Linked DNA regions of Homo sapiens: all the other regions are linked to region 1. Evidence: fine-mapped expression QTL. A gene starts in region 1. Each other region holds a variant in brackets. All regions are shown on one strand. Distances are from middle to middle.

Region 1 (9,808 bases):
CAGTCAAAGGGTGACTGGGAAAACTTTGGCAAAAATAAATATTAGTAATCAGAATCCAACATCCAACAGGCAGTTTCTATGGTGCTCACCGGCATGAGCTCTACCTCTTGGTGTTCATACATTTGGGACTGGGTGGGGCTTTTGACTTTCCTCTGACCAACAGACTATGGCAAAGATGATAGGATATCACTACTGGGATTATGTTACGTTGTTATATCATGTATGTCACGTTATACTATGTTATGTTTTGTTATGTTATGACTCTCTAGGGACTCTTTGCTGGCTTGATAGAGTAAGCAGTCATGCTGGGGAAGCCCATGTGACAAAGACCTGTGGGTAGTCCCGAGGAACTGGGGGTGACCCTAACAAGTTGAGGTTGGCCTCCAGCCAACATCCAGCCAAAATTTTAAGCTCTAAATATAACTACAAAGAACTAAATACTGCCAACAACCACATGAGTGGAGAAGCAAATCCTTCCCTAGCTGAGTCTCTACATGAGAACCTAGTGCTGGCCACCAGCAGTACTCAGCTAAGCCATGCCCAGGCTCTTGATTCACAGAAATGATGAGCTAATAAGCCATGCGTTGCTTTAAGCCACTAGGTCAATGATAACTTAGTACACAGCAATAGATAACTAATACAATGATATTGAAACATACTACAGGCTGGGCGCGGTGGCTCACGCCTGTAATCCCAGCACTTTGGGAAGCCAAGGTGGGAGGATCACTTGAGGCCAGGAGTTCGAGACCAGCCTGGCCAACATGATGAAACCCCATCTCTACCAAAAATATAACTTAACCGGGCATGGTGGTGCACGCCTGTAATCCCAGCCACTTGGGAGGCTGAGGCAGGAGAGTCGCTTGAACCTGGGAGGCAGAGGTTGGAGTGAGCCGAGATCATGCCACTGCACTCTAGCCTGGGCGACAGAGTGAGACTCTGTCTCAAAAAACAAACAAACAAACAACAACAACAACAACAACAAAGTGAAATCTGGGGGAAGACAAAAGTTATACATAGCTTTTTGACTGTGTGGGGGTCAGCATCCCTAACCTTCTCATTGTTCAAGGGCCAACTGTAATTGCTAAACTATATTCCATCGTACGGATATATATCTTGTTTATTTATTCACCAGTTGATGAACAACTGCGTTGTCTCTACTTTTCTGGCCATTATAAGCAATGCTGTTATGAGCATTTGTGTACAAGTCTTTGTGTGGACATTTCATTGTTTTCATTTCTCTTAGATTCCTGGGAGTGGGACTGTTGGGTCATATGGTATTTTTATGTTTAAATTTTAAAGAAACTGCCAAACTATTTTCTACATCATGTCCAAGTGGGACTTATTTCAGAAATGCAAAGATGGCCTAGTGTTAATATTCATACGTTTTGTGTCTGTTTACCTCAGCCTAGTCCCAGACCTGATATTGGGAAATCCATCACATGACTCATTATGCTACTAGTAATCAGGAGAAATATCAGATCATTATCTACATACATGGCTCTAACAAAGGTCAACACCAATCCTGATTTTTAAAACTGCCAATAAAATAGGAGTCAATGGATATTCCTCTATCTATCTATCTATCTATCTATCTATCTATCTATCTATCTCATCTATCTATCTCTTCCCATCCTAAAGTCAGCATCTTTCTTAATAGGGGAAGTATTAGAGGCCTTTTTACTAAGGTCAGGAACAAGGTAAGGAGGCCCACCACATCCAATATTTAATACTGAATTGGAGGTATTCAGCCAATTTAATTAGATAAAAGAAAGCATAAAAATCAGTAGAGAAGCAGTAAAGCTATTTGAATTTGTAGATGACAGAATGACTAACAGAATCAAAGATATGACTAACAACAGGCCGGTAATGGTGGCTCATGCCTGTAATCCCAGCACTTTGGGAGGCTGAGATGGCAGATCATCTGAAGTCAGGAGTTCGAGATCAGCCTGGCCAAGATGGCAAAACCCCGTCTCTACTAAAAATACAAAAATTAGCCTGACGTGGTGGCAGGCACCTGTAATCTTAGCTACCTGGGAAGCTAAGGCACGAGAATCACTTGAACCTGGAAGGTGGAGGTTGTGGTGAGCAGAGATCACGCTACTGCATTCCAGCCTGGGTGACAGAGCGAGACTCCGTCTCAAAATAAATAAATAAATAAATAAAAACAAAAAAAAAGACTAACAATAAAACTAACAATAAAAATTCAGGTAAGACAGAAAGATATAAAATAACATACACGAAACAGTAGCCAATTCAAAGATATAATTGAAGAAAAAACCATTTATAGTAGCAACACACAAGATAAAAATACTCATGAATAAACTTCATAAGAAATAGGAAAAACATATATGAGGAAAATTTCAAAACACTCCTAGAAGTAGTCTTGACAAACAGAAAGACATCTCTCAGTTTTGGATAAGATAACTCAACTTCATAAAGATGCCAATTATCCTAAAGTTAATATACAAGCCTAATATAAACTTAATACGCTCTCCTTCCCCGCCCGAACAGCAGCAACGTGCTGCAACAGCCAGGAAATCCTTGCAGTAAAAAGCGATGGAAGGAACTTGCCCACCACATGTTAAAACACAACAAGGAGAGTTGAGCCCAATCTCTCTCCTCTATTGCAATGGTCTTGAATAAAGTCCTCTTTGCCATTATTATAATATTATTATTATTATTATTATTATTATTTTGAGACAGAGTCTCACTCTGTTGCCCAGGCTGGAGTGCAGGGGTACAATCTCAGCTCAGCTCACTGCAAAATCTGCCTCCCAGGTTCAGGCGATTCTCATGCCTCAGCCTCCCAAGTAGCTGGGATTACAGGCATGTGCCACCATTCCCGGGTAATTTTTTATATATTTTGGTAGAGACAAGGTTTCACCATGTTGGCCAGGCTGGTTTCAAACTCCTGACCTCAAGTGATCTGCCTGCCTCAGCCTTCCCAAGTGCTGGGATTACAGGCGTGAGCCACTGTGCCAGGCCCTCCTTGCCTTTAAATATATTTTTTCTCTCTCTCTCTCTTTCACCAGTATGTGAACAGATGGAACAGACAGACCTGTGAGACACACTAGAAAGCCCAGAAACAGGCCCAGGGCTTGGATTTTTAGTGTATGAGAAAGGTGCATTTCAGATCACTGGAGGAAAGATGACCTTTTAAATAAATGGCTTTGGGACAGAGTGCCAGACACTTAGAAAAAGATTAAATTGGATGCAGAGACTAAGTACACAACTAAACAAATATTAGAAAACACAGATGATTGCTTTATAATTGGGCTTTTCATAGTTAGAAAAGTCTAAGTATGATTCCAAATCTATGTGAAAAGATGTCCAATTTCATTTATAATAATAGAAATATAAATTTAAAATACACTGAAATACTGTTTCTCAGCTCTCAAACCAGCGAGGCTGTGGGGAAACAGAAGACACTGTGATACATCGGTGGTGGGAATGCAAAACGGTGCTACCTCTTGACAAGGAATTTGGGACTAGCTAACAAAATAAATCCACATTCACTCCTACTTCTAGAAGTGTGTTCTAAATATACACCTTTGCAAACATTAACAATATAGGTGCAAAGTTATCCATTACTCCATTATTTTAAATTTAAAAAGACTTGGAAAAAAACAAAATTGTTCATCCAGAGGACATAATTTGAATAAACAATAATAGTACAGCCACAGAACGAAATACTATGTGAGTGTAAAAAAGAATGAGCCAGGTCTCCATGAACTGGTAAGAAGTTACTTTCAGGACATACTTCTAACTGAAGAAAAACCAGGAGCTGTACGGCTAACTTTTGTGATAATGCTTAAATGACTTGTTTTGCAGAAAGAGACACAGGAAGGATAAACCAGAAAATATTTTAAATGGCTCCCAATGGTGTGGGAACAAGGAAGAAGATGCAGGGGTGGGACTGAGACCTTTAAGGATAGCTTTTTAATAGTTCTGACCTTTAAACCATGTGTTTTACGTATTCAAAAAATAAAATTACATCCTAAAGTCTAAAGGAAAAAAAGCTCCAAATTGAATGCAAGTAGAAACACACGAAGCTAACAGTGTGTCCGACTGATAACGTCACCACACAGCACTCTGCCTGCACACCCGTGGAAATCCCGATGCTGACCTAGCAGGTTTTGGTTGGCTTCGGTGTGGATGCAGTCATTCTGAAACTCTTTCGGGGTGCATTGTGGAGCTAAGTAAATGATGAAATATATTCATGTTTGGGGGAATAAGGTTCTCACTGCAGGAGAAAGGGAAAGGAAATATTAATTTTTAGTAAAAAAGGGGCCTTGGCTTGGTCCACTGACAAGGCCTAGAGGCGGCGAGTGCACGCCCCACACTAAGCCCGGGTCCCACGCAAGGAACCAAGGCCCCTTGGACAAATGGCTGACTCTGGATCTGGGTCCAGGTACAAGTGAGAGCTGGAACCACCTCAGAGACTGGCGGGGACATGGCAGGAGGGTGCAGACCCCGGCCTGAAAAGGGCCAGGTCCCGGGCAGGGCCCCACCTCTACCTGGTGGCCTGCGGGCTCCCCCTCGCCAGTCCCGCCCTGGGCTCCGCAGCCCGTCCCTCTCTCGCCTGCCCTCCCTCTCCTGCCCCGGCAGTGCGCCCACCCGCCGCCACGGGCAGCCTTTCGACGCCCAACCTGCAAACCGCCTGGGGGCTGCCCAGGACGTCCAGACCCTGTAGCGTCTCAGCTCCAGCTCCGCCCCCTCCTGCCCTCAGGGATCTCACCCGCGCTGTTCCCCCGGGCTACCCGTCCATCACAGGCTGGGCTCCCCGCTCAGGACAGCCTCCCTGACCAGACGAAGGCTCCGCCGCGCCCTGGTCTCCCTCTGCCCCAGTCACCCTACTGCATGTTCTTCCCAGCACGCATAAGATCTTGGCCATGTCCTTGCTTTTGCCTTTGATTTCTTGTTTGGTGTCCCCTCCCACACCAGCTAGTGAGCACTTACGGGGGCAGGCAGCAGGCGGCACACAGTAGGCGCTCAATGAATGTGGCCAGTGAGTGGACAACCCTAGCCCCCCTCCACCGGTCGCCTGCACAGTGGCTGCACTATGGCTGTTGGAGCCAGTCTTACCAGAGGTGGGACCCCAGCGTTGCCACTCCATGGTCCCGCCCCTCTCTAAACCTCAGTTACTCCACCTGCCTGGCAGGCAGAGCTTCCCAGGACTCTTCTCAGGCTCCCGGGGCTCAGAACTTCTGTCTCTCCCACAGCCCCAGGAGGCAGGAGATACGGGCCCGGAAGAGCTCCACCAGCACCCCAACTTCCCAGCTCTGTCTTTCCCACAGTTTCCCACGCCCACGCTGAGCATGGGGCGGCGTCGCCAGCACCCTTCCCCAAGTCCCCCCAAGCATCGCTTTCCCAATCTAAATACAATGAGTGGACCAGGTGGTCCCTTGATGCCGTCCGCTGTCACTGCGTGAGGGACACACCCAGGACTCCCAGCAGACCCCACTGTTCTCGCAGGCCCTCTGATAGTGGCGCTGGTCCTTTCCTCAAATCCGATCCCATCCTCAAGGGTGACAGCACCCTCTTCCCCCAGGCGCAAGGCCCTTTCCCTTCTGCACGTGCACCGGCAGGTCTGCTTTCCCGTCCCCATTTCATAGACGGGGAAACTGAGGTCCGGTGCGGGTGGAGGCTTTGGTCTAGGCTGGCTCTTCCTGCCACTCTAGCGGCTGAAAGAAGCTTGCTCCTCGCGCCCAGCAGGGGCTGGCGGCGCGCGGCAGAGCTGGGTCTCCCGCCAGGTGGCCGGGGGTGTGCCCTCAGGGTACCCTACCCGCTACCCCCGCGCCTCCAGTCCCGGCGGCCGCGCGGACCCCGCCCCTGCTGACCCCGGCGCACGCTCCCGCGCCGCGCGCAGCCTCCCGCCTCCCGCCGACCCCGCCGCGCCGCCGGCAGCCCTCCCCAGCCCCCGCGAGCCCGCGCCCTTGCCCGCACCGCCAGGTGTCCCTCGGCCGCGCACCACTCACCGGCTCCCGGCGCGCCGGAACTCCGGGCCCGGCCCATGGGCAGCTCCCGGTGCGAGCCTCGGCGCCGCGGACCGGGGCGCCGCCCGCCGCCGCCGCCGCCGCCGCCGCCGCCGCCGCCGCCGCCCGACCGCCCGGCTCCCAGCGCAGCCCGCACGAGCGCCTGGCGGCGGCCCCGGAGCAACGCGGCGCTGCGCCCCCTCGTGGCACTCAGGCAGCGCGGAGCGGGCGGGGCGCGGGGGTGGAGCTGCGGGAGCCCGCGGGCGGCGCTGCACACCAGGGCCCTCCGTGCCCCGGCCGCGGAGCCAAGCGTCCCGCCCTGCGTTCAGGCCTCCGCGGCGGCTGGCCCCCCGCGCCAGGACCACCCGCTCGGGCCGTCAGACGCTGCCCTCCCGCGCGCGGACCCTGGCGGACTCTGCGCCCCAGCTGCCCCAGCCTACACCTCACCTGGTGGGCCTCTGGCGCCCCAAAACCCAGTTCACCCTCTCTCCTCAAGACTGGGCCCGGCCCGGTTCTCTGGACTGGCCACCTAGGTTGTCTGTGTCCCCCAATGGGACATCCCTGGGTGGACACCCCCCCTCCCCAACCTTCTCGGCGCTCTCCCGTGGCCCCCAGGGAGGGTGGACACCACTTTGAAGACACCGGGGTTCTGGGAGGATGGCGATGCATGATTTCACTTTTAGAAAGGGAGAGGGGCTCTAACAGGATCCAGTGGCCTCCTTGAACTGGGTCTTCAGTGAAAAGTTCCCTGGTTGGTCCCAGCATAGAGGTCAGGACACCTGTCCTCCTGTGTCCGCAGTTTGTCCCTTCCGCTGGGTTCCTGGTCTGGCTGACTTCAAGAATGAGCCAGGGACCTTGGCAGTGAGTGTTACAGCTCTTAAAGGTGGTGCGACGGTGAAACCCTGTCTGTACTAAAAATACAAAAAAATTAGCCAGGTTTGGTGGTGGGCGCTTGTGGTCCCAGCTATTCGGGAGGCTGAGGCAGGAGAAGGGCGTGAACCCGGGGAGGTGGAGCTTGCAGTGAGCAGAGATTGCACCACTGCACTGTAGCCTGGGCGACAGAGCAAGACTCCATCTCAAAAAAAAAAAAAAAGAAAAGAAAAGAAAAAGGTGGTGCAGACCCAAAGAGTGCGTAGCAGCAAAATGTCTTGTGAAGAGCAAGAGAACAAAGCTTCCACAGCAGGGAAAAAGACCACAGCCGGTCGCCGCTGTTGCTGGCTGGCGAGGGGTGGGCGGGCAGCTTTTATTCCCTTATTTGTCCCCACCCATGTCCTGCTGATTGGTCCGTTTCACGGAGTGCTGATTGGTGCGTTTTTACAGAGTGCTGATTGGTGCATTTACAATCCTCTAGCTAGCCAGAAAAGTTCTCCAAGTCCCCACCCGACACGGAAGTTCCAGCTGCCTTCACCTCACTCTGCTTTAGTCAGGACCTGCCTGATGAGATGTGGCCCAAAACTCAACCCAACCAGCTTGAGCAAAAAGCTGGTTTGTGGATCATAAAAAGCCAAGGTTTACTGCTTAGAGGAATGGCTAGATCCAGGTACTTAACCTATGTGCATAGAAACTGGCCTCCCCTATCTCCCAGTCTTTCTGTGGCAGAATGGCCCTGGGTTGACACCTCAGAGAGGGCACAGCTGCCTGATAGTTGCAAGGACAGCCTGCGGCTGCCACACACAGGCTCCGAGGAGCTGAGCTCAGGCCATTTCCAAAGACCTAGGGAGCAGGAATAGCAGGCCTGGGTGTCGTCTCACTAGAGCTGAGGCAGAGTTAGTCCTGTGTCAGCTTTGAGGATGGAGTAAGGTGCTGTTCCAAGCTTCCGTGAAGGCTGTTCCTGGAAGAATGGACAGGTTAAGAACAACAGTCCAGCCCATTTCTTGAACAGTTAGGGAAACTGAGTCCTGGAGAGAGCAGGCAGCTGCCTAGGGCATACAGATGTATTAGAATGAATGTGGGCCAGGTAGCTAGGCAGGGAGACAGCAGGGCTGGGGCCAGGGCCAGGGCCAGAGGCTGGCCCTAGGGAGGGTGACATCTGAGACCAAGGGTCAGGTGTGGGGAAAGGGAGGAGGAACAGAGGCAGGCACTTGGTCAGGGGTGAGCAGTGTGCTCCCAGCAGATAGACAGATGCGCCTCAGGGTGCAGGCACTGGGCCCTCCCTGCATCTTCTCCGATTATCACCCTATGCCCCTAAGCCTCAGGTCCAGTCCCAGGGTGTCGCCTGGAGGAAGCCAGGAGTCTAGGAGGAGAGGCCGCAAGAGGCACCTCAGAAGAGCTGACCCACTCAGCTGTGTTGTTCTGGGGTCTGGGCAGCACTGAGCGGCCCTCCTAACCAAGTGCAGGTCAGGGTGGTGAGGCCAGTCTTTCCCCAGCTCACCCTTGCTCTGTGAGCAAAGGCTGCTGTCCCCTGATAAAGAACTTTCTCCAGCAAGTGGCTGGGGCCACTGAAGCATGATTGCCCTGCTGGGAGCAGGGTAGGGGATGCTTGGATGAGGCCAGGGCAACTGGAACATGGGTGTGGACTAGCTCATGGCCACAGCTCCGTGTCCCACAGGGGTGAGGGTGGCAGAGCTTTGCTCTGGGACAAAGGAGAAGACCGTGTCCCCTGAGGTCTCCTGCGTCCTCTCCCTGCCAGACCCATCGCTGCCGAGAGTTGGGCCTGTGCTGAGGAAGACGCATGAGCTGCAGTCGCGGCTCATGCAACACCAGGAAGGTTTTTGAGCCTCGCGGCCAGCGTGGAGTTCTGCCCTGAGCCTCCAGCTTTGTGGGACCCTGGCTGCAGGTGCCACCACTGGGCCCTGGGAGGTATCTGCTCCCGCCCCCTCATAGCCCACCCAGGAGTGCCCTCTAGCAAGGAACCTCTCCTGCCCAGCCCCTACCCTGCCCACCCAACTTCTCACTCCAGAACGTGCCCCGGGGCTAATCCCTGAGTGAGGGCATTGGGACAGAGGGTGAGCCATCCCTAGGGCCGTCAACTCAGTCTCCCCTCACCCCACCACTGCCCTGAGACATCTATTGGGTGGACACTTACCTAGGGCCTATGTGTGCCGGGCACCATGCTGGGTGCTGGGAATATAGCAGAGAGCCCGACATGGGGTTCCTGCCCCCTGGAACTCATGGTTTAGAGAAGGGAGGCTGAAAACTAACCATACAAACAAAAGAGTAAAAACAATCATTTCGGAGAGCGCCGAGCGCCATGAAGGAAGCCATACTGGGGAGGTGGTTGAGTGCGGTGGGGCTGCTTTAGAAGGGAGGGCCCAGGAAGGGCCTCTCCAGGCACATCAGACAAGGCACTGGCCATACAGGGTCTGGGAAAAGCACCGTGGGCAGAGAGAATAGCAAGGGCGAGGCCCTGTGGCTGGCATGGACTTTGCATTGTTTTTGCAAAAAAGAGGCTGGAGCCAAGGTGGAAGGGAACAGGGCCAGGCAGGGTGTCCAGGTGGGCAAGGAGCTGGATCCTGTCCTCTGGGTGTCGACACAGGGGCAGGTGTGGCTGCAGCTCTGCCAGCAGCACCCCCAGCAGGAGGGGGTGGTGCTGTCCCCAGATGTAGGGGTCCTGACACCCATGAGGCCTTTCCCAGCACCTTCAGCCCCTGCGTAGCTGCCCCTGGCCTGGATGGCACATCCTGCACACGTGTGACTCTGGGAGACCTGAGTGTGCCCCACCAACGCAGCACTGGGTTAGTGGGGCTGGAGTCCTTGTTCACTGGGTGTGGCCACGAGGGACAGGCAGCAGGCCCACGAGGAGTTGGCAGGCAGGGGAGAGCTGATGAGTACAGACCTGGGCAGGGGGCAGGGAATGGGGCAGACCTGAGGGCTGTTTCTGGGGGAGAAGCCAC
Region 2 (9,808 bases), 66 kb before region 1:
CCACACCAGCCAGCCCGAGGGAGGCCAGCCCCGGGAAGCGGCAGCAGAGGGCGGGAGGGAGACAGGCCACGGTGCAGTGCTGTGGTGTGAGGCCCGAGCCAGCGGTCCCTGAGATAGGGCAGGTACACGGGCCAGCTAAGTCCTTTTGGTTCAGGCGGGTTGAAGTTGGGTCTCTCCCACTAGCGGTAGAGCCCTACCGACGCGTGTGCAATAGAGGCAGCCCGCAGGACCCGGCCAGGACTGGGAAGGTGGAGCGGATGTGCTGGGGGAAGGAAGCCCACCAGAGGCAGCAGGCCCTCCCGGCCACAGATGGGTCCTACTGACCGGGCTCCGGATACTCAGGTCTGGGCTTAATGGGCTCAAGGGTTCCCGTCGGGCACTGGAAAACTACATGGAGGTTAAAGGTCCTGTTCTGCTCCTTCTGGCTCTGGGCCTCAGACAAGGTGGAAACACCCGGTAGCCACCTTGTCAGGAAAACGGGGACAATCATTGCCTCCCCGAGAGGCTGATGCGTTGAGGGCATGGCAGGGCAGTGCTGGTACACTCTGAGACCCCCTGGCCTGCCCTCCGCCTCACCTTGTCCAGCACCGGCTTGTCCAGCTGCTGCTGCTCGATGCACAGGTGGCAGACCCGGGCCAGGAGCTCCCGGGGCTCGATGAAGAGGCGAGAGCTCAGCAGGAAGGTGAAGATGTAGGCTTTCTGGGGGACACACGAGAAAGAGGGCACAGGCTCAGGAGGGCACCAGGAGGGGCATGCTTCCCAGCTGGCCCTGTACCCTGGCCCAAGGTCACGCCCAACCCTGATGCCCCCCGTGCGTGGTGGAGGAGAGCCCACTCTCCTGCCCGCTGGGTGGATCACCCACCTCGGGGTAGTAGTCGGCTGTGGGCACCAGGTGCTGGATCAGTGTTTCCAGGGAGGCTGAGGATGGCGCTCCATCCAGGAGGGGCTGCCCAGCCTGTTCGCCATCTGTGGGCTCGGTGGGGGGTGGGCTGAGGCTGCCTGGGGTGACCATGTCGGAGGCACTCAGCGTCTGTGGCATGTCTGCCTGCAATGGCAAGGAGCAGTGAGGACCTGAGTGGGGGCACACCTGAGTTGGGTGCACCTGAGTGGGAGCTGCTGGTCCCGGGGCTCCTGGCTGGGCAGGCTCCCCCCACAGCCACTTTGTGCCAGCTTGAGTCCAGTGGTCACTTCCTGGGAGTATTGTCAGGGCCCCTTCCTCACAGCACAGCCTTCATTCTCCGTCTTCTCATGGCCTCTCAACTCTCCTGCAGGACCCATCTCTTGTCTACTCCTCTTGCCCCACTCAGGGGCAGGCCTCTTCTAGATTCTTCCCCCCGGCACCCCTCCACGAAGGTTGTTTTTCACAAGCCTGGATAATCAGCCTAATCCCCCTGCTTCTGGCCACAAAGATTGGTTCAGGGATTGGCCCCATCCAAATTAGGGGGGCTCAGCTGCAATCCCAGAACTTATGTGGCACTTGGAGGCTTTCTTTCCCCCTGGAGTCCTTGAGCTGGTGGAATGTATGCCCGACGCTACTGGGGCCATTGTGGCAGGAAAGTGGGCACATTCCTGAGCACAGTGTCGCTGTGCTGAGCACAGAAGCTGCTCCATGGACTTCTCCATCACATGTGCCTCTTTAAGTTGGGGTTCTCTCAGGTACAGTCAAAACTGCTGTCCTCCTTAACCTGGCATTCTGGGCTCTTTGTGATTTGGACTAGCTGACCTGTCCATCCTCACCGCCTATCACACCCCATTGCTCTTGGCACCAGCCACGTTCTCTCCTCCAAATGCCTTCTCCAACTCTGAACCACTGCACATGCCGTTCCCTCCTGCAGGAAGGCTCTCCCACCATCTTCACTCCCCTATCCCTCCAGGTATGGCTGAAATGCCTCGTCCTCGGTGAAGCCTTCCCTGCGTCCCACCAAGGCTGCACCTGACCTCTGGTGGGCATCAGCAGATTCTGCTTGTCAGCCTTGTTGGGTGCCTGGGTGCTGCTGTCAGTACCTGGCACAGGGAAAGGCCAGCTGCAGCCGTTACAGTGTCTTCTCTACCCAAACCTCCAGGCAGAGGCCAGAGCACATCCTCTGTGACCCTGCTCTGAGTGACGGGCCTGGCAGCAGCAGGTGTCCATACCCACCTGCAGGGAGCCCATGCTTACTCTCAGAAGCTCTTCCACTTACCCCTCTAGGCCAGTCTTCCTTGAAAGCCCAGGAGCCCTCACAGTGACGCATCCTGGCTAAACCTGTGACTGTTTAGACAGCCCCTACATTCTTGATCGTGGAGTCCTGCCAGCTCACTGCAGGGTCTTCTATGGACTCTGAGGCTCCCCTGCTCATGCCGTCCTTGCTGCCCCGATGGCAAACCCTGACCCTGGCCTATTTCTCCTTTGCAGCACTCTGAGTGACCCTGCCCTGGGAG[T/C]AGAGACAGAGGGACGTGGTGGGTCAGAGCTGACACTGGGGATCAGAGGGAGCCCCTCAGAGGGCTGTCCCGTGGCCATGTGGGTGTGGGAGGTGCTGGGACTGGGTTACAGCATGGGAAGGGCTCAGGCATTGGTGTGGACAGCAGCCCAGACAGTCCTGGCCATGGTGACAGACAGCTTATTTTCGCCTCCCTGACAATGCTGTAAGTGTTCAATTTTCAGCCAATGAAACCGTAAAATTTCACAAAATCACCTCCTGTCTGTCCCAGGGGGAGGCGGCTGAGCAGGTGGGCATGCAGGAAGCTGCACATGCTCAGTGGGAGGGGGACAGCTGCGGGATGGGCCGGCTGCAGGGTGCACGCTGCTCTGCCTCCTGCCCAGGGCCCGGCAGCTCAGCCTGATTCCACAAGATAGAAAACCTGTGAGCCTGGGAGGTCCGTTGTCTCCTGCTGGACACCTGGCACCTGTTCACCCTGCAACGCTGGGCCTGCCCCAGATCCCAGCCCCATTTTCTTGACAAGCCAGTGGCAAGGGTGGAGGTGGCTCTGGAAGCCTCTGCAGGATGGTGGGAGGTGCCATGCAGGGGCCTTTCTGAAGGAGGCCAGGAGGCTGCCACTTTAAAGAGACAGCCAGGAGGCTCCCAGGGGACCTGGGGCCTGGCCTGGACCCAGGTGCTGGGCACATGGGAGGTGGGAGCAGTGTTCAGATCCAGCTCTGCTCTGGAGCGACTAGCTCTCGCTGGAGCCAGGGGTGGTGGTGGTTGCTGAACTATTGTGACCCACAGGGATGCCCAGAGAGGGGCTGGGCTGCCAGTGGTCCTCCGACCTCCAATCACCCATCGTATCACCAGCTGGGTCCAGGTCTGGGTCTCAATGAATGGGCTTATCCTTGTGCCGCAGCCTTCAGTTTTTTCCTGTGGTTGCCAAGGGTCATCCATTCATGCGTGTATGCATGGGGTGACTCCTGGCTCCATTCCAGGCAATGGGGACAAAGCCCGACCTCAGGGAGCTGGTAAGGGAGGCAGAGCTGTGCAGAGACTGCCCCACGGGAGGCGTGCTGTGAGGGAAAGGGGGTGACCACTCTCTGTGCTCACTGCGGTGGATGTCCTGGCCCCTAAGAGAAGGTGAGGTCAGAGCTGCTGCTACCAGCGGGCTCCCCCACCACTCCCACCCCTCCCTGCAGGCGTGCTGGTGCAGACAGGCCAGGTGCCCACCTCTGGCCTCTGCATGAGGACAGCTGGGGACACAGAGGACACTGCTGCTCCTCCATCCGCCAGGGACAGCCAGCTCCTCCTCCCTCCAGCAGGAGCTCCAGCCTGCCTGGAATGGGCTGGGTGAGGGTGGCTGCACTGAGGGCTGACGGCAGGATGCAATCGGCAGAGAGACATGCCAGACAGACTGACCAGCATGTGCAGAGGCTCGGCGGAGCGGGGGGCAACGTGGTGTGATCATGGGAGTATATGCTTAGGTGTCAGGAGCCAGGCAGTGGCTCCTGGAAGTGTAGTGGGGAGTGACTGAGTTGGGGTCAGGGAGTGTGCAGAGTGATCAGAGCATCACGTTCCTTGTGTGCAAAAACAGCCATGTAACGAGGGTCCCTCGCTCCACCTGTAAGTGACGCTTTTATTAGTTTCTAGTCTTTCTGTAGCTTCTTTACGCAAAGACAAGGACATGTAAACACATAACCCCTTTTCTGTCTGTATTACACAAAAAGGTAGCATACTGTCCACACTCCCCCGCACTGGGCTTTCTTCACTAACAATGCGTTTTGAGGACCTTTCCATGGCAGGGCAGGGCTGCCTCATTCATTTTTATAAAAATTGCCTCACAATATTCCATTGTTTGGATGTCCACAAATAATTTTTAAAAAGAAATGAGGCAGCAGCCCAAGCGTCCATCAGTGACGAATGGATGGAGAAAACGCCTCTCCACACAGTGGGGCAGGAGTCAGCCTCAGAGAGGAAGGAGGTTCTGAGCCTGCGGCAACACGGATGACCTTGAGGACGTCATGCTAAGTGAAATGAGCCTGACACAGAAGCACAAACACTGAGTGACCCCACTTGTGGAGGCACCTACAGTCATCACGTTCACAGAGGCAGACGGTGGGACGGCGAGTGCCAGGGGCTGGGGGTGGGACAGGAGAACAGAGTGTCACTTGTGAAGAAGAAAAGATTTCTGGAGAGGGATGGAGGTGACAGTTCCACCACGATATGAAGGTACTTAATGTCACTGAACTGTCACTTAAAAAGGGTTAAAATGATACATTTTATGTTATGTGTATTTTATCACACTTTTTTTTTTTTTTTTTTAAACAGAGTCTCACCAGGCTGGAGTGTAGTGGCACGATCTTTGCTCACTGCAGTCTCCACCTCCCAGGTTCAAGGGATTCTCGTGCCTCAGCCTCCCAAGTAGCTGGGATTACAGGTGCCCACCACCACACTCAGCTAATTTTTGTATTTTTGGTAGAGACGGGGTTTCACCATGTTAGCCAGGATGGTCTCGATCTCCTGACCTCATATCACACTTTTTAAAAAAGGCAGTGATGATGGGACAATTGTTTATTGTTACAATATCTCTCAGAAGTCTTGAAATCACTGTTAAGTCTCCCATCTGTGTTTTGTGCACGTGGCCTGAATGATGCACGTGACAAAGGGGCTGGGAGTCTTGGGGGCTGCATAGATGGGCTGTCAGCATGAGGGGCTCAGCATGGATGGGGAACGTTCTGCTCGTACCCTGTAGAGAGACCTTTCCATTTCTCCCTCTGTCTGCCTCGTTGGGACGTGGGGCTCGGTGTGTGTGAACTAGATATATGCACGGTGTGGCTGCTCCCGTGGGGTTCCGCTTCCTACCCATGAAATGAATGAGACTTAATTAAATGCCCAGTGCTGGCAGGCATGCAAGGGCAGCCCCTTACACACCACTGCGGGGAGGGGTGGTATGCGTTGTCATGGTCCCTTTAATTGTACCAAGATTTGGCTCAATGTACCAAGAGCGTTATGTTCTATAGCGTCCTTTCATCCTAATCAAAGCCTTGGAAATGTATCCTGAGAAAATAAAGGGGACAAGCTGTGGAAAGAAAGGCCCTTGCTTCAGCATTAAATCCCAGCAGCGAACACTCTCGAGCAGCACAGATGGCAAACAAAGGGAGCATGGACGGGGAGGTGCACAGACGCACTGGCGGAGTGGCTGTGGCCGCTGCAGTGATGGTTCTGAACACACGGTCATAACACAGAAAACAGTGTGGCACAAGGAGGGGAAAACAGCAGGAGAGAAAGGTGCGGATGGTGGGAATGACATTCACGTGGATGAAGACTGCAGTGAGGCCCTGAGAAATGAGTCGCTGCTGTGCCCTCCTCGCACCCCATCGTTTTAGAGTCATTCGTCCAAGCTGAAGTCCACTCATCAGAGGATGGCTCTGGGAACACCTGAACTGATTCCAGGCCTGGAATGGTGAGGCTGGGGGCACGTGCCCCCGCTGTGGCAAGGGCACTGACAGGACACTGAGAGGAAATGCCTGGCTCTGGCACACAGCCCCAAGTGGCTGAGGCATGAGCTTCTGCCTCGGTTTCCCTCTCCATGGCTCCTGTCCCACTGCCTGGCCCCCAGCCCCTCAGGCATCTCTCCTTGTGTGTGTCTCCAGGCCCTGCACCTGGAGGTCCTGGGGCTCCTGCAGCAGTTCAAGAGACAGCAGGCGAGGATTGTGTGGGGTCAGGTCTGCAGAGAGACAGGCAGACAGGGGACAGGATCCCACGTGCCACCCTGCAGGGGGGCACTCTGATGCCTGCCAGCACCCAGCTGGGCATCCTTCCTTCTGGAGGCCTCACTGACAGGCTCAGGGCCCACCCTGCTCCAGGCCGCTGGCGCTGGCAAAGTTTCTGGGACAGCATGGCCCCAGCCCAACCCCTCTATGGGAGACGGGAAATGTGTGCAGGGACAGGGGCACCATGTGGTGCGTTTATAAGGAAGGCCAGCCCTGAAGATGGATGTGCATTCTCCTGCTATTCCAGTGGGTGCTGGAAAGAGGTAATGGTCACCTGCCCCCAGCCAGTTGAAAACGTGCCCAAGGGCCCTGCTGTTCCTCCTCAGCGTGGGGCTGGCAGAAGGTGGGCCGGCTGTACCAGTGAAAACCCACAAGCTCTGCTGTGCTCTGGGAGCTGGCGTGCTCAGACCTTCCTGGTGTAAAAGTCATCCAGGACATCCAGGACTCCTGACTTACGTTTCATATTGTGATTGTAAGGGTGGCAATTAATTCTATTTTTTTAAAAAGCCACTGATGGGGCCACACAGTGAGTTAAAGCACAGTTAGAAATGACATCTGTAGTGCCAAGGTGGTCAGTTTACAGACCCTGTTCCTGCTGGGGTCCCCACATCCCTCAGCATGGGTGGCTGGCATTAAACATCTGCAAAATGGAAATCCATCGAACTTGCAGAAGAAAAGCAGGTGGCTGGTCAGAGCGCGTCCTGGGGGCTGGAGGGATGTTCTCCCTGGGCCAGGTGTGGCAGAAGGGACAGAGGTAAAGAAGGCTCCCGAAGGCCCCTGTGAGGACCACGCGCGTGTCTCAGGAAGACACCTGTGAGCTCTGAGAAGAGGGAGCAGTCCCCCTCTTCAGGTTATGGAGACTGGTGCACGAAGTACCTCGCACAGTGCCTGCTGTGGAGAAAGGACCCCCAAGGCCAGCACTCGCCACGGGGAGCTCGCCACCTGCTAGGGCCAGACCACAACACAGGCAGCAACTGCTGTTAACCAAGGCTCTGTGTGTGCCAAAAAGACTTGCCAACTGCACCGCCATGGTTCCCCATGGCTTCTGTGCTGGCTGCAGCTGGGGCGACCCTCTACCTGCCCATCCAGCCCTGCAGCTGAAACCACGTCCCAACAGCTGCTGGAAATGGTCCCACTGCTTTAGCCTCAAAGGCTGTGGTGGGTCCACGGCCCCAAATCAGAGCCCTTTCTGCCCTTGCTTGAATATGTGCAGAATTTTACACATTTACACATTCTCAAGAGTTTGAGACCAGCCTGGGCAACACAGTGAGACCCTCATCTCTAGAAAAAGTTTTTAAAAATTAGGTTGACGTAATGTCACACACCTGTAGTCCGAGCTACTTGGGAGGCTGAGATGGGAGGATTGCTTGAGCCCAGGAATTCAAGGCTGCAGTGAGCTGTGACTGCACCACTGCACTCCAGCCTGGGTGACAGAGCAAGACCCTGCCTCTACCAAAAAAATAAAAATTAAAAAAATATACTTAACATAAATTTACCGTGTAAAGTTCAGTGGCATTAAGTACATTCACACTGTTGCACAAGCATCACCACCGTCCGTCCACAGAAGTTTTTCATCATCAATTGAAACCCTGTACCCAGTAAACACTAACTCCCCAATTTCTCCTCCTCTCCTTCCCCAGCCCCTGGTAACCACAGTTCTACATTCTATGTATTTTTACCATTCTGGGTACCTTATATAAGTGGAATCATAAAACATTTGTCCTTCAGTGACTGGCGTATTTCATTCATCTTTGTCAAGGTGCACCACTGTTGTAACATGCGTCAGAATTTCCTTCCTTTTTAAGGCTGAATACTGTTCCACTGCATGCACATACCATATTTTGTTCATCTATTCATCTGTCAGTGGGCAGTGGGGGTTGTTTCCCCCTTTACCATACTGTTTTCCACAGCAGCTGCACCATTTTATTTATTTTTATTTTAATTTTTATTTTGAGACGGTCTCACTCTGTCACCCAGGCTGGAGTGCCGTGGTGCAATCTCAGCTCACTGCAACCTCTGCCTCCCGGGTTCAAGCGATTCTCCTGCCTCAGCCTCTCAAGAAGCTGGGATTACAGGCATGTGCCACCACCGTGTCCGGCTAATTTTTGTTTTAGTAGAGATGGGGTTTCACCATGTTGGCCAGGCTGGTCTTAAACTCCTGACCTTAGGTGATCTGCCCGCCTCAGCCTCCCAAAGTGCTGGGATTACAGGCGTGAGCCACCGTGCCCGGCCCGCTGCACCATTTAAAATTACCAACAGCAATGTAAAGGGTTCCAATTTCTCCACATCCTTGACAATGCTTGTTGTTTTCTGCTTTTTTGATAATGGCCATCCTAATGGGTGGGAAGTGGTATCTCATTGTGGTTTGGATTTGCATTTCCCTAAATATCAGTGATCTTGAGCATCTTTTCATTTGCCATTTGTATATATTCTTTAGAAAAATGCCTGTTCAAGACTTTTCCCCACTTTTTTCAAGCAAAGAAAATTTAATTCATAGAATTGGTTCCGTGACAGGATGTAATTACCCCACCCCTGAGATTTAAGGAACAAAAGAGAAGCCGTGGCGTTTCAAGACCCAGATCAGAGGAGAAGCCCCACAGAACTGGAGCTCACGCTTCGAGCATGGCTGCTGCTGGGACCTCTGCAGGGGCATGAGGCAGCTAGCCCCAAGAGTCCTCTTTTACCCATTTTTGAATTGAGTTGTTTGGGATTTGTTTGTTTTTGAGTTTTAGGAGTTTGTTAGATAGTCTGGATATCAATCCCTTATTAGCTATGTGATTTGTAAATATCTTCTCCTATTCGGTAGGTTATCTTTTTACTTTGTTGATAGTGTCCTTTGAGGCACAAATGTTTTCCATTTTGATGAAGTCCAATTCGTCTATTTTTGTCTTTTGTTGCCTGTGTCTTTGGTATCATATCCAAAAAGTCACTGCCCAATCCAATATCATGAAGCTTTCCCCCAATGTTTTTTTGAGATGGAGTCTGGCTCTGTCACCCAGGCTGGAGTGCAGTGGCACAATCTTGACTCACTGCAACCTCTGCCTCCCAGGTTCAAGTGATTCTCCTGTCTCAGCCTCATGAATAGCTGGGACTACAGGTGCATGCCACCACACCCGGCTCATTTTGTATTTTGTATTTTGGTACTTTTAACACGGTTTCACCATGTTGCGCAGGCTGGTTTCCAACTCCTGAGCTCAAGTGATCCGTTCAAAGTGTTGGGATTACAGGCATGAGCCACTGTGCTTGGCCAGCTATGTGTTTTTCATATGTGACTTTTATTATGTTGAGGTAGTTTCCTTCTATTCCAGTTTTTGGAGTACTTTTTTTTTTTGTCATGAAAGGGCATTGAATTTTGTTTAATGCTTTTTTCTTCATCAATTGAAATGATCATGTGTTTTTTCCTTCATCATGTTAATCTATTGTATTACATTGATTGATTTTCGTATGTTGAACCATCTTTGCATTCCAGGAATAAACCTCCCTTGGTTGTGGTGTATAATTTTCTTTAATATGCTGCTGAACTTGGTTTGCTAGTATTTTGTTGAGGATGTTTGCATCATAAGGGATATTGGTCTGTAGTTTACTTCTTGTAGTGCTTCTGTCTGGCTTTGGTATCAAGGTGATGCTGACCTC
Region 3 (9,808 bases), 81 kb before region 1:
TCCGCCCACCTCGGCCTCCAAAAGTGCTGGGATTACAGGCGTGAGCCACTGCGCCCGGCTAAAAATACATTTTAAAATGTAACTTCACACACACACACACACACACACACACACACACACACACACACACCCTCATTATTCCTGGATCCTGTATTTGCAAATTTGCCTGCTCTCTAAAATGTATTCGTAACCCCAAAAACTTGTGTCACTTTCGTGGTCGTCTGTACACACGTGTGCGGTGGCAAAAATATCGAAGTCATGAGCGTCCGCAAGCATCTCCAGAGGAGGCTAAGCAATGCTTTGTCCCGCATCACACGCTCAGACTTGGCCTACTGAGTATCATGTCCTTTGCATTTTCATGCTTTTTGCTGATAATTTCATTGCTGAGAAAGGCCCCCAAGCATGGTGCTGAAGTGCCGTCTAGTATTCCCATGCGCACAAAGGCTGCTCTGTGCCTCACAGAGAAAATGTGTGTGACATCAGCATTCAGCTGTGAGTAACAGCACTGTTAGCCATGAGATCAATAGTAATCAATAATTTATATTAAATAATGTCTTTAAACATAAGCACACATAAAACAAGGTGATATATTGATCCGCTGGCAAAAGCCTTGTGATGAGAGTCTCACAGGAGCCTAACCTTGCATTTCCCCCCGGGAGCGATGGTTCTGTGCTCCCTCACTCGGTGCTGCAGCTGCTGGGAGTAATGGGCACCAGCTGTGTGTATGCATGCATCTATCATAACCATATATATTCCCATGCCTTGCTATGCGAACCTTTCCCTGTGCCATAACATATCCTTTGGAAAAAAAATTTTTAAATGGATTTAGAACTTTCCACTGTATAATATACCACCATTTAAAAGATGAAACTTAACCTAAATGTGTTTGTTAAAACTGCCAGGGTAGGCCAAGCGCAGTGGCTCACGCCTGTAATCGCAACACTTTGGGAGGCCAAGGTGGGTGGATCACCTGAGGTCAGGAGTTCAGGAACAGCCTGGTCAACATGATGAAACTCTGTCTCTACTAAATATACAAAAATTAGCTGGATGTGGTGGTGGGTGCCTGTAATCCCAGCTACTCAGGAGGCTGAGGCAGGAGAATCGCTTGAACCCGGGAGGCAGAGGTTGCAGTGAGCCGAGATTGTGCCACCGCACTCCAGCCTGGGAAACAAGAGCGAAACTTCATCTAAAAAAAAAAAAAAAAACTAAAACAAAAACAAAAAACAAAAAAAAATCCCCAAAAAACTGCCAGGGTAACTTTCAATAAATAGAGGGGAAGATGGAATGGGGGACCTATTCATCCAAAGGAAGCAAAGGAAGGAGGAAAAAGAAACAGATAAGGAAGATAACTATGTGGTACAACAGAAGATAGCAAGAACAAATTCTTATGGACTAGTGATTACAACACTGTAATTAACAAATGCAGCTGCTTGCCACTTTCAAGAGATACACTCCAAACACAAGGATATAAGTAAAAAAAAGAGAAAAATATATCTGATAAATATTACGTAACTATATTAACATTGAACAAAATAGACTTTAAGGCAACAAAAAAGACCCTGAGGCAAAAAGCTGTAGGAGAAATTGCATAATGATAAAAGGGTCAGCTCATCAGGGATATGTCACAAGTCTTAACTTGATTGCAGCTAGTAACATAGGTTCAATATATGGAGGCAAAAACAATCAGAAAGCTGAAGTTCTTTATCAGGAGAAGTTGAGTCCTACAGTCACATGGAAGATTTTAACACACATGACGGTAACTAGTAGCTTAGGGAGATTGAAAAAGAAAAACAAAACGCAACCCAGGATGAATATGAATCTCAGCAACACAATTTGAAGCAATAAACAAACACGGAAACTTGAACTTAACTACTTGAGAATACGCATTCTTTTCAAATGTTCAGAAACTTAAAAAATTTTTTGAAATAATCTATGTTTCAAAGATGAAATCATAATGGAATTAGAATGATAATGAAAATGTTAAAAAATAAAACTTGGAGGCTGTAAATAAAAATTTATGTAAAAAGAAATCAACCATCTTTCATGCTTTTATTAGAAAAGAAGGATAAAAACAAGCTGAACATCCAACATAAGAAACTAGAAAAAGAATAACAGTATAAATCCAAAGAAAGTAGATGGAAGGAAATAATAAAGAGTAGAGAAGAAAGAAATGAAATAGTAAAAAAAACTGCAATCTACAGAATCAACAAAGTCAAAAGATCTTTATTTGAAAACATTAATAAAATTGATGAACCTCGGATAAGATTGATAAAGAAACAAAGAGAGGTGTAAATAATCAAAATACTAGAGATGGATCAATGTAGATGTGAAGAAATTAAAAAGATACCTAGAGAATATTACAAATAATTGTATGTCTATAAATTTGGAAACTTAGGGGAAATGGCCAAATTCCTAGGAAAATATAAATTACAAAACAGACTAAAGAAGAAACATAAAACCTAAATAGTCCTAAAACCATTAAATTAATAACAAGAATAAACAACGAAACAAACAAACAAACAAGAATAACCTTGAATCAGTACACGAAAGTCATCCCTCAAAGAAAATACTCGGGAGGCTGAGGCAGGAGAATGGCATGAACCCAGGAGGCAGAGCTCGCAGTGAGCCGAGATAGCGCCACTGCACTCCAGCCTGGGCGACAGAGCGAGACTCTGTCTCAAAAAAAAAAAAAAGAAAAAGAAAATACCAAGCCTAGATGGTTCCACTGGCTAATTCTACAAAATGCTCCAAGAACAAGTAATTCCAGTCTTTCAGGAAGAATAGAGATCAGGGTAAGAGAAACAAAGACTACACAAGAACAGTATCAGAAGGGGAAATAACAGTTCAGTCTCACTGACGATTATAGTTGCAGAAATCCTAAAACATTAGCAAACCAAATCCAGGGAAGTGTGAAAAAGATAATGATTTCATTTATCCCAGTTTCGTTTATCTCAGAAATGCAAAGTTGGTTCAACATTGATTAAAAAAACAGCCTGGCGCAGTGGCTCACGCCTGTAATCCCAGCACTTTGGGAGGCCGAGGAGGGTGGATCACTTGAGGTCGGGAGTTCGGGAACAGCCTGACCAACATGGTGAAATCCTATCTCTACTAAAAATACAAAAATAGCTGAGCTTGGTGGTGGGCACCTGTAATCCTAGCTATTTGGAAGGCTGAGGCAGGAGAATCTCTTGAATCCAGGAGGCGGACGTTGTAGTGAGCGAAGATCGTGCTATTGCACTCCAGCCTGGGCAACAAGTGCAAAACTCCGTCTCAAACAACAACAGCAATAAAAAACTAGGCCAGGTGAGGTGGCTCACACCTGTAATCCCAGCACTTTGGGAAGCCAATGCAAGCAGATCTCTTGAGCTCAGGAGTTCTAGACCAGTCTGGGCAAACATGGAGAAACCCTGTCTCCACAAAAAATACCAAAATTAGCCAGGTATGGAGGCATGTGCCTGTAGTCCCAGCTACTTGGGGGGCTGAGGCAGGAGGATCACTTGAGCCCGGGAGGTTGAGGCTGCAGTGAGCTGTGTTCACATCACTGTACTCCAGCCTGGGAAAAAGAGCAAGACTCTGTCTCAAAAATACCAACAACAACAACAACAAAAAACCCAAAACAAACAAAAGAAACATTTATTTTAAAAACTAATATAAACAATCAGCTAACAGTTTAAAGGAGAAGAGAATATGTGAGTAACAGATCCAGAAAAAATAAATGAAATTTAACAACCATTCATGATGAGAATTCTGAGAAAACTAGGAAGGAACAGGATACTTCCTTAAGCTGATAATAGACATCTCAAGAAATCCTGTAGCAAACATCATACTCTATTGGGACAACACGTTAAAAGCATTCCTTTGAAAATCAGGATAAAATAAGGATGCCAGCTATCAATACTTCTATTTGACATTGTACCAGAGGTGCAAGTTAGCACAATAAGTTAGTCAGGCCGGGCGTGGTGGTTCATGCCTGTAATCCCAGCACTTTGGGAGTCCAAGGCGGGTGGATCACCTGAGGTCGGGAGTTCGAGACCAGCCTGACCAACATGGAGAACCCTTGTCTCTACTAAAAATACAAAATTAGCCAGGCGTGGTGGCGCATGCCTGTAATCCCAGCTACTCGGGAGGCTGAGGCAGGAGAATCGCTTGAACCCGGGAGGTGGAGGTTGCAATGAGCCGAGATCGCACCACTGCACTCCAGCCTGGGTGACAAAAGTGAGTGAGACTCCATCTCAAAAAAAAAAAGCTAATCTTAATTGCTAATATAAATATTGATAAATATAATCCATATAACCAAAAGTTAATTGGGGTCCTTAATAATTTTTAAGAGTATAAAGGGATCCTGAGCCTTTTGAGAACGGACACCCTACAGAAAGTGTGCACTCGTGTATACCAGCGGGTGTAAGAATGTCCACTGTGGGAATATTTATAACAGCAAAAAGCTGGACACACAAATGTTCATCTACAGTAGGGGGATAAAACAAATGTCATGTGTCGTCTTGATGTATTTCACAATAAAAAAGTAATATTTGGAAATGGCCCCAAACCAAACAAAAAATCTTACAAGAATCTCGGCCGGGCGCGGTAGCTCACGCCTGTAATCCCAGCACTTTGGGAGGCCGAGGCGGGCAGATCACAAGGTCAGGAGATCGAGACCATCATGGCTTACACGGTGAAACCCTGTCTCTACTAAAAATACAAAAAATTAGCCGGGTGTTGTGGTGGGCGCCTGTAGTCCCAGCTATTGGGGAGGCTGAGGCAGGAGAACGGTGTGAACCCGGGAGGCGGAGCTTGCAGTGAGCGGAGACCGCGCCCCTGCACTCCAGCCTGGGCGACAGAGTGAGATCCGTCTCAAAAAAAGAAAAAAAATCTCCCTCCCGTTCCTGCCTCCCAGCACCACAGTTGTTCCGAATTCCCAGAGCAGTCAGCATTCCTAGAGAGTGCTGACGGACACAGGCAACATACATGGTTTTGTGTTACCCTCTTTTTTTGTTACCCAAATGGTCACACACTCTCGCCCCTGCTCTTCCCTCTACCGTTTTCTCTCAGTGCCTGGAGGGATAGGTCTTGGAGGTTGTTCTGTCCACCTTATTCCCTTTCACAGCTGCACACCATTCTAGTTATAGACGTTTCATAATTTGTAATCCAGTCCCCATGGGTGACAAGGCAATCTGCCCCCAGTGTTTGGCCATAATAAACATTGTCTATCCCAAATATCTTCGTCCGTGCATGTTCGTGTACATGGGTGTGTATCTGTGGGATAAATTCGTAGGTATGGAAAATTGGGGTCAAGAAAGTCCATTTAGAGCGTCGATGCTAGTGCCAGTCTCCCCTCCAAAGTGGCTGCGCCAGCTTCACCCCAGCAGCCACGTGGAGTGTGTCTTCCACAATGTGTCTAACCTACTAGGTGATTTTTGCTTATCTGAGAAGTGAAAAATGCAATCTCATAGTTTGTACTTTTATTAGGTGTGAGGGCAGAAGGCACAATGTTTGCAATTCTGGCTTGGATTTAGCCCGTGGGAGGCACCGGCACCCTGCTGGTTGGGCTCCCAGAAGGGCGGGATCGAAATCCGGGTGCGTGGGCTGTGTCCTGAGCACCGGGACCCAGGAGTTCCCTTACCCATCCCGGGCAGCGGGCAGCAACCCGCGCTTCCCCGCGTGGCCGCTGGAGGGCACCGGCGCCCACCGAAACGCACCGGGAAGGCGCACGGGGTCCCGGAGCGCGCCAGGGGGCCCTCCACCCTCCTCCCTGCCCAGGGTCCTGGCCCACCCGAGCAGCGCGGCCCACGGCCTGGTTCCTGGCCCACTCCTCCTCCCTCGCTGGGTGGGTGACCCCCACGTCCCGCACGTCCAGGCTTTCCGGGGACTCGGGACTCGGTTGTCGTGGTGCGCCCCCGAGCTGGAGGGGCGTGGCGGAGTGGGCAGGGCCCCCCGAGCCCACCTGTCCCACTCTGGGCCACTCCAGCGCTCGCCCAGAGAAGGCTCGCGGGCTCCCCGGAGAGCGGCCAGTCACTGGGTGAGGCTCACTTTTGGGACAGCCCGTAAGAGC[C/T]TCCTACCTTTGTGCTGGCCAGAGGGTCCTTGTTCACAAAGGCCTGGACAAACTCCTCAGGCCCGATGTGCCGCAGCCGCTCCTGCAGGGAAGGGTGAAGAGTGGGTAAAAGAGGGAAGGTATGGGGAGGGGGTGTCCACTGGGGGGCCTGCCGTGGTGCCCCAGCCCCTAGTCCTCCTCACAACAGTCACTCTGCAACTGCCCTCCCCACTGGGGCTTGGAGACCCTGTTTTAGGTTGTCACAGAGCTCAGCGCCTTCCCTGGAGGAGGCAGCCCCTCCTTTCCCGGTTCATGGGGGCAGGGAGCAATGCTATGAGGCGTGACGCCCAGGGAAGCCAGGCTCCACGCTGGGTAACTGAAGTGGCCTGCTTCCTCTGCGGGGTGGAGGGGCTGGTGGCTAGGAGCATGGCATCTGGGTCAGAATCAAACCCTGGCTCTGTCCCTTCTGCTGTGTGACTTTGGCAAGTCGCTTCACCTTTCTGGGCCTTAGTTTCCTCTGTGTACAGGGCCTGCCTGGCCAGGTGATGGAGACATGAGCGAGCGCACGGGAGCGCGCTGAAGAGTGCCTGGAGAGCAGGGAGGTCGCCATCAACCCTCAGTCTCAAAGGGAAGAACCCGCCCCAGCCTCCCTCTCCCTGGGGTGGGCCCTTGGCCTCTGCATCCACAAGGGGCCCAGTGCATGCTCGAGGCTAGGCCAGGGCCTCCTTCACAAGCTTGTGGGGCTGCTCTGGGAAGCCAGGGAGGGCACAGTGTATCTGTGTGTGTCCTGCTGAATCCCGGGTGAGGAAGGTGGTTTGGGCCGGCTTACCAGTTCCACGTGGGTCAGCTGCTGGGCCAGTGTGTAGGGGTCGCTGCAGACACCAAGGAGCTCCCTGTGGATGGAGGCTGGTGGCTTGGTCCTGTAGGAGATGGGCTTGTCGGCACCCACCAGACCTTCTGGCCCCTGGCGCAGAGCCGCCAGCTTCTGGTGCAGAGCCTGTAGGAGCTGATGCATCCTCTTCCGGTATGCCTGGTGGGTGGAAAGAAGGGCGCTCAGGACTGAACACTCATCTCTGCATCTCTAACACTGGAACCAGGCAGCCACCTGGGCTCCAAAGGGAGGGTCTTTTCCTCAGGGTCTCTGGAGAAAAGGCCAGGTACCAGCGCAGGGGCCAGGACCTGCCCCTACCCTGAAACAGGACCCAATCCCGGCCAGGGTGGGGCCACCTGGCAAGGGATCTGGGGTGAAGGCTGCAGGGCTTCCCATCTGTGGGTGGGAGCCAAGAGGAGCACACATCAGGGAGGGTGACGGGGGCCGGGGGCAGCTGTCTGGGGCAGTGGGGTAGAGTGGGGTGGGCACGGCCAGGAAGCCAGAGAAAGGGAGAGAGGCGGGAGACATGGCATGGGCCCTGCCCTGGGCAGACGACTGGCATTTGGCTTGGCTTTAATGGGGCCTCTGTTATCTCCCAGGCCCAGCTCGGCCTTCCCCGACCAGCTGTGCTGTTGTCTGGGAGAGAGACAGGAGGTCAGTGGAAGGGCCAGGGCCCACGGGGGACTGACTGTGCCCCCCAGGGCTGGCAGTGGCTGCGCCCCACTCCCCATCTTCCCAGCACTCAGATGAAGCCCTGGGAGGCAGTGTGCCGACCACAGTTTTGGACACAGCCTTCCTTAGAGGGGTCGTTCCTTCCATGGGCAACAGATAGAAGAGTCGGACAACTGCCCGGCTAACCAGTGGGCGCCTTCTGCACCTGGCCCGTGCTCTGAGAGTTAGGCTTAGGGTTAAGCCACGTCCTGTCCCATTCCTCCCATCTGAGGCTCTGCCACAGCTGCCCACTGCCATAGGAGTGCCAGACGACTCCCAACCCCGCCACCAGAGCACAGGGCTCCAGCGTCCTCAGACAGTAGCAGCACCCCAGGGCCCTGGCTGAGGCCCCCCCAGAGCAATCGGAGCCCCCAGACCCTCACAGCCAGCATGCAGATGCCACACCTGCCCACCGCTCACTGCAGGCTCTGTGTGTCTCAAAATCGCATGAAGGAAAACTCCCTGCAATCTCTGAAGTGACCTGATGATGCCGACTGCCACCCTTCGTTATTTCCCGAGGCCTCTGGGAGCAGCAGCCTGTCCAGTCAAGGTGCGCCATCGCTGGGGACCAGGCTCCAGCTCCCACCACTGCCTCTGCCAGTGCCCAGGCCGGCTCCTGGCTGTAGGGGGTTGCATCTCACTCTGAGTTAGACCAAACCCCTTGAGGACATGAGGATGTCTACCTTAACAAACCCAGCCAGTCTGATGGCACTTCCTTGGAAATAGGGGTTTCCGAGGGGAAATAATTAGGTTTTCCTTGACGGTGGGAGAGGAGGTGCCCCTGAGGGGTGGCCACGGCCTTTCATCCCTGTACCCAGCCCATGATGTGGCCCAAAGCAAGAGCCCGTGCGTCTGAGCTGGCTGGTGGGGGTGAGCACTTACTGCGCACCCACTGTGTGCCCAGAGCAGGGCTGGGCTCTCATAGCACAGCGGCGGCAGCACAGACCTTGCAGCCCTGTGGAGCTGTTATTCTAGTGTGGGAGGAAATGACCCCATTGTCTCGACGGTGGTCCTATCAAAGAAGTCGCATAGGGTGACCTGGATGAGTACTGTTGGGAGCAGAGGCCAGGGAAACTAGGCTCCACGCTGGGTAATTGAAGTGGCCTGCTTCCTCTGCGGGGTAGGGGGCAGGGGGCCCATGGAAGGAACGACCCCTCTCAGGAAGGCTGTGTCCAAAACTGTGGTCGGCACACTGCCTCCCAGGGCTTCATCTGAGTGCTGGGAAGATGGGGAGTGGGGCGCAGCCACTGCCAGCCTTGAGGGGCACGGTCAGTCCCCTGTGGGCCCTGGCCCTTCCACGGACCTCCTGTCTCTCTCCCAGGCAAAGCCAGAGTCCCACGAGTGGCTACACCTGCTGTTTCGTCTCCTCACCCCCACTCACTCCTGAATCACTTCACCTGGCTGCCACTCCCATCAGTCAATTCGTTGGGCCCTCCTGTCACCAAAGCCAGTGGCCGTTTCTCAGGCTGCGTCTTCCTTGGCCACCTCCGCCTCAGCCTCCTGGTTGCTCCTGCCTTGGGCTGTCTGCAGGCTTGCCTGTGTTCACTGTCGTGAGATGCTGGGGTTCGGGGTTCTTCCTGCTCTGTCTAGGCCTCTCTTCTCACTCTTACTTAGCTCCTGGCTGTTCTGCTTCACACCTGCAGTCTCCCTCTGATCTCCAGAGTCATATGGGCGGCGGTCCGTCATATGGCCCATGGTCCTCTGTTTGCCCAGCACAGCAAATGGAGGTCGACTCTCCTTGTCCAAAGCTGGTATTCCCAGTGTTGGTGGATAGCGCGTCGGCCACCAGACACACAGGCTTGGTGCCATCCTCGACCCCGCCCTCTCCCTCATGCCCCTCTAGGCCATCACCACCCCTCTCTAGTTCATTTTCTTCTATTTCTGCGCATCCCACCACTGTCTCTGGAGCCCAGGCCACTGTCATCTCTCTGCTGCACTGGCCTTCTTAATGCCCCCAATGCATCCACGCCGGTTTCTCTCCACCCTGCAGCCACAGAGGTCTGTTCAAAATGCAAATCTGATCGCTGCCTCCCTGTTCCTGAAAATGCCTCCATGGCTTGTGCAAAGATAGGAGCCCTGGCGTGACTCTGAGGCTCCGAGGTCAGCTCTGGCCAGGCTTGGTGGCCTCTATGCGCCCTTGCTCCCCTTCTGTGCTCTGGACACAGGTCACTCCTCCGCCCCTTTGACTCCTTCCCACC

Which allele goes with the higher level. Alleles are on the strand shown, and positions count from the first base shown. SD is a standard deviation of normalised expression in the study named. Not every link is listed here.
In carriers of allele C in region 2, the expression in tibial nerve of the gene that starts at base 6,162 in region 1 tends to be higher than with T alone (small effect, 0.13 SD a copy in GTEx).

Evidence for each region. PIP is the estimated chance that this variant, and not a neighbour inherited with it, causes the effect.
Region 2: its variant is the best candidate, but not a certain one, in a credible set for the expression of RASGEF1C in tibial nerve (GTEx, PIP 0.89).
Region 3: its variant is the best candidate, but not a certain one, in a credible set for the expression of RASGEF1C in thyroid (GTEx, PIP 0.60).

What each region holds. Positions count from the first base shown.
Region 1 is chr5:180,203,050-180,212,857 of GRCh38, forward strand. It overlaps RASGEF1C (RasGEF domain family member 1C), which reads right to left and starts at 6,162. Exons shown (of 14, transcript NM_175062.4): 1 at 5,979-6,162. RefSeq lists an enhancer at 4,161-4,953 and a silencer at 6,078-6,297.
Region 2 is chr5:180,137,014-180,146,821 of GRCh38, forward strand. RASGEF1C (RasGEF domain family member 1C) reads right to left here. Exons shown (of 14, transcript NM_175062.4): 2 at 863-1,045; 3 at 577-699. The coding sequence starts at 1,039. Among named protein-coding and RNA genes, the nearest start is that of RASGEF1C, 67 kb to the right of the region's middle. RefSeq lists an enhancer at 36-535. The variant T/C (reference allele first, on the strand shown) is at 2,419.
Region 3 is chr5:180,121,553-180,131,360 of GRCh38, forward strand. It overlaps RASGEF1C (RasGEF domain family member 1C), which reads right to left. Exons shown (of 14, transcript NM_175062.4): 5 at 6,858-7,058; 6 at 6,057-6,131. Among named protein-coding and RNA genes, the nearest start is that of RNF130, 55 kb to the left of the region's middle. RefSeq lists silencers at 5,057-5,351, 5,578-5,627, 5,698-5,767. The variant C/T (reference allele first, on the strand shown) is at 6,050.